Linked DNA regions of Homo sapiens. The protein of the gene in region 1 purifies or fractionates together with the protein of each later gene. This does not show direct contact. Each region holds a gene or a part of one and is shown on either strand. Other genes may lie near its edges.

Region 1 (3,500 bases):
AAACTCTTATCAGATCTATTTTCTCCCAGTCCCTGGGTCGCTTTTTCATGTTCTGTGTTTGCTGTGCATACACTTTTTTGTTTCATTTAATGCTACTTGTTTTTATTTTTTGCTTTTTGTTGCTTGTGATTTTTTGATGTGATAGCCAGAAAAATTATTGCCAAGGCCAGTGTCAAAGAGATTTTTCCTTATGCTTTGTTCTAGAAGTTATACAGTTTCTGGTTTTGCATTTAAGTGTTAATTCTTTTGAGTTAATTTTTGTACATAGTATAAGTAAATTTTATTCTTTTGCAGATGACTACTTTCTTTCAGCATTATTTGTTGAAGAGACTATACTTCCCCTTTGTGTATCTTGGTGCCCTTGTCAAAGTAATAGTTGACTGTATGCACATGGGTTTCTTTCTGGTTTTTGTATTCTATTCCATTGGTCTATGTGTCTGTTTTTACGTCAGTACCATACTCTTGATTAGTATAGCTGTGTAATAGTTTGAAATGAAGAAGTGTGATGCCTCTAGCTTTATTCTTCTTTTTCAAGATTGCATGGGCTATTTGGAGTTATTTGTGATTCCATTGAAGTTTTATAATTTTTTCTATTTCTGTGAAAAATGCCATTAAAATGTCAATACAGATTTCATTGGATCTGTGAATCATTTTGTGAAGTATGGACATTTTAGCAATATTTTTTCCAATCCATGAAGAAGGGATATTTTTCCATTTGTGTCTTTTTCAATTACTTTCATCAGTGTTTTATAGATTTTACTGGACAGATCTTTCACTTCTTTTGTTAAATGAAGTTATAAAATTTAAAAAAAATTTTTGATACTATTATAAATCAGATTTTTTTGTAACTTTTTTCTCAGTTTATTGTTAGTATATGGAAATGCTACTAATTTTTGTATATTTTTGTGGCCTCAACTTTACTGAATGGATATATTAGCTCTATTTTTTGTTTGTTTGGTATAGTCTTTATGGTTTTCTGTATCTTCAAATCACTTCATCTGTAAACAGTGAGAATTTTACTTCTTTATTCCTGATTTGAATGCCTTTTTGTTTCTTTTTCTTACCTAATTGTTCTGGCTTGATTTCTCACTACTATGTTGAATAGAAGTGTTGAGATTGGGCACCTCTGTCTTGTTTCTGATACTAGAGGAAACTTTCAGCATTTCACTGTTTACTCTGTTGAGATGGATACTTTTGTATGTATGTTGTTTGGAGTTTTTATTATGAAAATGTATTTACTTCTGTTATAGGCTTTTAATAAATTTTTTGAGAGGATTATATGATTTTCATCTTTTTGTTATTGTGGTATATCATTTAAATTGTGTATGTTAAAACATTCTTGCATCTCAGGGATAAATCCTACTTGATAATGATGTCTGATCCTTTTAATGTGTTTTTGAATTTGGTATCTAGTATTTTGTTGAGAATTTTTGCTTGTATCTTTATAAGGAATATTGTTTTGTTACTTTTTTGTAGTGTCCTTATCTGGCTTCAGTATGAGATGTTGGTGGTCTCATAAAATGAGTTTGAAAGTGCTTTTTTCTTTCAGTTTTTTGGAAGAGTTTGAAAAGTGTTGACATTGCTTTTTTAAATGCTTGATACAGTTTACCCATGAAGTCATTTGGTCATGGGATTTTTTTTAAATTGGAAGATTTCTGAGTATTTCTGTCTTCTTTCTCATTATTAGTCTTTTGGGTATTTCTGTTTCTTCACAGTGTGGTGTTCTTTCTAAGAATCAATTTCTTCTAAGTTATCTTTTTTTGTTATGTAATTGTTCATAATAGTTTCTTATTTTTTTTCTTTCTGTGATATCAGCTGGAATGACTGCTTTTTCATTAATAGCTTTTTGAGTCCTCTCTCTTTTTTTTTCCCTTGGATAATCTAGGAAAAGTTTGTTCATTTTGTTTTTTTTTAATGACTCAGTTTTTTGATATTTTTTATTTTTCTAGTCTCTCTCTCTCTTTGCTCTAATTTTTATTATTTCCATAATTATGCCAACACTGGGATTATTTTGTTCTTCTTGATCAAGCTCCTTGAGGATTACAGTTAGATTGCTTATTTGAGATCTTTGTTTTCCTTATTGTAGAACTTTATCATTTTATACTTCTGTCTTAGAACTGCTTTTGTTACATCTCAGAAGTTTTGGTTTCTTGTGTTTCCAATTTCATTTGTATCAAGACAATTTTTTATTTCCCTTTTGATTTCATGGTTGTTCAGAAGCATGTTGTTTAATGTCAACACTGTATTAGTCTATTCTATAAAGAAAAGAGATTTAATTGGTCTACAGTTCTGCAGTCTGTACAGAAGCATGGCACCAGCATCTGCTTGGCTTCTGGCGAGGGCCTCAGTAAGTTTGCAATCAGGGGAATTGGTAAAGGTAGAACAGGCAGTCACATGGCAAGAGCAGGAGCACCAGACTAAGTTGGGAGGTGCTACACACTTTTAAACAACCAGATCTCATAACATCTCACTATCAAGGACAGCACCAAAGAATTCTTGAGGGATCTGCCCCTATTATTCAGACACCCCATATTAGGTTCCACCTTCAAGAATGGGGATTACTTTTCAACATGAGTTTTGTGGTGGGAGACTAAACATCCACACTGTATCACACACATTTGTGAGCTTTCTAGTTTTCCTCCTGCTGTTGATTTTCTAGTTTTACACCATTATGATAAAAAACTTGATATAATTTTAATCCTAAATTTAAAAAGACTTGTTTTCTATTTTTGGTTTAACATATGATCTATCCTGGAGAATATTCCATGTATTCTTGAGAAGAATGTGTATTCTCATACTGTTTGATAAAATATTGTCTATTTAGTTTATGGTGTTATACAGGTGAACTCTTTTTTTTTATTAGTTTTCTCTCTAAATATTCCATGCTTTGTTGTAAATAGGACATTGAAGTTCCCTGTTATTGCATTTCGTTTTCTCACCACAGGTATGTTAATGTTTGCTTTATATATTTGGGTGCTCCAGTGTTGGGTGCATACATAGTTTTAGTTTCTATATCCTCTTAACAAATTAACTTCTTTATCATCATGTAGTGAACTCCTTTCCTCTTGTGACAGATTTTTGCATGGAAGTCTGTTTTGTCTAATATAACCAACAACCACTCCTGATTTTTGGTTGTTGTTTGCATGCACTGTGGTTTCTATTCTTTAAGTTTATGTTTGTCCTTAAATCAAAAGTGAGTCTCTTGTAAGCAGCATACTGTTAGTTTAAAAAAATTCATTTAGCCACTCTGTGTTTATTCTAGTCTGTTTTGTTTTCTATAATAGAATACCACAGATTGGCTAATTTATAAACAGGGGTAGTTTATTTGGCTCATGATTCCAGGAGCTTGGAAGGCAAAGAAAACGACATTGTTATCTGGTGAAGGCCTTTTTGCTGCATAGTAACATGGCCAAAGGCCTGAGGGAGAAGAGAGCTCCCTTTTATAACAGACTCACTTTTGTGATAACTAACACACTCCCATAAGGACATTAATTCATGAG
Region 2 (3,500 bases), on another chromosome or scaffold:
TGTGATTAACACAGCTGGTAGGAAAGAACCACAACTTGGTGGTCAAGCTGCTTAATGTTTATCAAGTTCAGCATAATGGAAAAAGCATCAAATTTTAATTCCTGTGCCCTCACTTAATAGCTATGTAACTTTAAAGACACCATTTAAAATCTGAGCTTCATAATTATAAATTATTATGCAAATTAGTATGTAAATCCCCCCACAACCAAGTTATGAGATCATGTGAAATGCAGCTCCAAGTGCCTGGCTGGCTATAAAATGCTCCAGAAAGGCTGGCCACTGAAGGACAGACACAAAGTAGCAAAATCATAGGCTTATGTATTCTTTCAAGTCCTTCCCAAGGATAAAGATTATTGTATAATTATCACTGATAACAGAAGCTAACATTTATTGAGGGCTTGCTGTGTGCTAAGATTTTACATGCATTAGCCTCACGTCAGCTTTAGGAGTTGGGGTTAATTATGGCACCTAACTTATAGAAGAGGAAACCAATTTAGAGACATTAAAATACTTGTTCAAGGTTACACGGCAGGGAAAAGGCAGAGTCAGGATCTGTATTCTGTAGTCTGAATCCAAAGCGAATCCAAAACTCTGAGGTGCTATGCTCTGCTACCTGCTGATGGTTCTGCTGGGGGATGCTCAACCACCAGATGTCTTACTTGGGAACTGCACTGGAGGTCGAGGGTCTGCATTCTCCTTCTGTCGTAAAATCACAACGTCCCCATCTTTCAAGCCATAAGAAGCCAATGATCTGTGGTTGTCTGTGAGAGGTCTTTCCGCATAGACGATCTACAACAAGAAAAGATATACAACAGTATAAAGCACTGAGAAGTAACACAGCGCAAGGCAGAAGGACCAGTTTTCCCCTGAATCAGATGTCACCCTCCTTTCAAACCCTCCAGTGGATTCCCACCACATCCAGAACAAAACCCACAGTCCTTCCCGTCACCTAGCAGGACCAAACAATGTGGTCCCTGGCTCTCCTGACTTCGCCTTTCACTATGACTGCTGTTCCTCAAACAACAGGGATCAACTTCCCCTTCAGGGCTGTTTCTCTTGTTTTCTCTACCTGAGGAATGTTCTTTTTCCACTCATTTTTTTCCTTTTACGTCTCTGATCAAACATTACTCTTTAGAGTTCTTCCCTACTATGTTATTTAAAATGTACTCTCAACTAACACAATATATATTTACTTATTGTCCTTCTGCCCCATTAAATGTAAACTACTTGAGGACAAAGACTTTGTTTCATTCACGAGATCATAAATGCTTAGAACAGGGCCTGTTATATAACTGATGCTCAAATATTTGTTGAACTAAAGAATGAATGAATTTATGGAAATGGATATAATTTTAGATTTAATTTTTAGCAGGGAGGAAAAGGGAATGATTTATTCTGGGTATGCTAACTAACTACAGTACTATTAAATAAAGTGTGCACTTTGAAATAATCTTGAACACTGGCAAAAGGGTCCCAAATATCATCCTTCCTGCACTGCAATCTTCCTTCTCTTCTACCACCCCCAAAGTTTTATCACTCTGGGCCGGGCACGCTGGCTCACGCCTGTAATTCCAGCACTTTGGGAGGCCAAGGCGGGTGGATCACGAGGTCAGGGGTTCGAGACCAGCCTGGCCAACATGGTGAAACTCCGTCTCTACTAAAAATACAAAAATTAGCCCAGTGTCGTGGCACGTGCCTGTAATCCCAGCTACTCCAGAGGCTGTGGCAGGAGAATTGCTTAAACCCGGGAGGCAAAGGTTGCAGGGCTGAGATCGCACCACTGCACCCTAGCCTGGGCAAGCAAGATTCCATCTTGGTGGGGTGGTGGGAGGGGGGAGACTGGAAAATAAAGTGAAACTAAGAAAATAACAACTAAATACAAGTGGAAAAAAGAATTAGGAATGTACTACTAATAAAAATATTTTATGATGTGTAATCAAACTGAAAAAAACCTGACAGCACAAATAGATGAAATAATGTGTTGCAGATAGAAAGAACAAAGGTACACTATAATTTTATCATGAAAAAACATAAAATCTGCCCTGCATTATTACATACTCCAGAAAGGCATTCAGAACAAACTCAGGCTTTGAAAGGTTTTCCTCCTAATGATTTTTCACCAGGCCACATGCGAACTGAGGAACATGAGTTCTATCCTTGCCAGTAACTCCCTGCGAGGGGCATGACACTCAGCAGGTCCAGACCTCACCCTTCCCATGTGTCAAGCAAGCAGGTGGGCTAGATCATCATTACAGCTGTCCCTTCCAGTTCTCTCTGCTAACATTATCATTCTATGTTTCCTTACAGCTTTCATAGTAAGGTTACCTGAAATAAAAACTGAAAACACAGCATTTAAACTGGAAAAAAAGTGATTATGCCATATCTGCTCTCAGAATTTATAGACATGAGGAACAGAACAGGAAAATGAGTTCCTACCAAAATCAAATTCTTCTGAATATGAGCAAATTTGTAGGCCCAATTATACAAGTTTTATGCATGACTTGAAAAAAAATACTATTAAGTCCTTAATGCTCAACTCGCTGAGTTAAAACACATTTCAGATCTGGTATGATGGCTCATGCCTATAATCCTAGCACTTGGGGAGGCTGAGGTGTGAGCATCACTTAACCCATTTAGGCCAGAGGTTGCAAATTTTCTTTTGTGAAAAAATCATACCTTGGCAATGACCTTGAGTAGTAGGATATAACTCCCACAAGCTTAGCGTTCCATTGGAAGGCTAAGCACAAATGGGTTAAGCCCTGGAGTTTGAGACCAGCCTGGGCAACATAGTGAGACCGCATATCTAAAAAAAAAAAATTTTAAATAGCCAGCCATGGTAGCATGTGACTGTAGTCTCAGCTACTTAGGAGTCTGAGGCAGGAGGATTGCTTGAGCCCAGGAGGTCCAGGCTGTAGTGAGCTGCGGTTGCACCACTGCACTCCAGCCTGGGGCAACAGAGTAAGACCCTGTCTCTTAAAAAACAAAAACAAACAAAAAAAGAACCACATTTCAACAGACTGCAACTGTCACTCCCATCATCCCATTCACACACCCTCATTTAAACACAAATTTCACAGTAAAAGTACATCACCATCAACACAGAATTTCAGCAAAACAACTGAGAGTCATATTATAACTTGTGAGACTGCTTGGAAAAAACACATAAACCAGAAGTGATGAGCGTCACAGGTTGAGGTGTGCAACAAGAAAAAAGAGGTATGTCAAGAGAAATGGCAGGTAGGCAGGCTCTTACAGCATAGCATCAACACTGTGAAGCCACTGTCAACAACCTACTCTTTAATTTTCCAGTTTCAGAAATTCAACTATCAGTATATTTAGAGATACATGAACAGTCTCCTGGGAGCAGAGGCACATTTTAACGGTATTTATTTATTTATTTATTTTGAGACGGAGTCTCGCTCTCGCCCAGGCTGGGGTGCAGTGGCGGGATCTCGGCTCACTGTAAGCTCCGCCTCCCAGGTTCTCCTGCTTCAGCCTCC

The links. The genes of interacting proteins can lie anywhere in the genome.
Region 2: the proteins of ZNF267 (region 1) and DDI2 purify together in Homo sapiens (co-immunoprecipitation; one large-scale study listed by IntAct). This does not show direct contact.

The regions. Positions count from the first base shown.
Region 1 is NC_000016.10:31,887,307-31,890,806, forward strand, and holds part of ZNF267 (zinc finger protein 267), read left to right. Parts: intron 1-2,900; exon of another isoform or gene 2,901-2,944; intron 2,945-3,500. UniProt on the Homo sapiens protein: May be involved in transcriptional regulation.
Region 2 is NC_000001.11:15,623,958-15,627,457, reverse strand, and holds part of DDI2 (protein DDI1 homolog 2), read right to left. Parts: intron 790-3,500; coding exon 660-789; intron 1-659. UniProt on the Homo sapiens protein: Aspartic protease that mediates the cleavage of NFE2L1/NRF1 at 'Leu-104', thereby promoting release of NFE2L1/NRF1 from the endoplasmic reticulum membrane.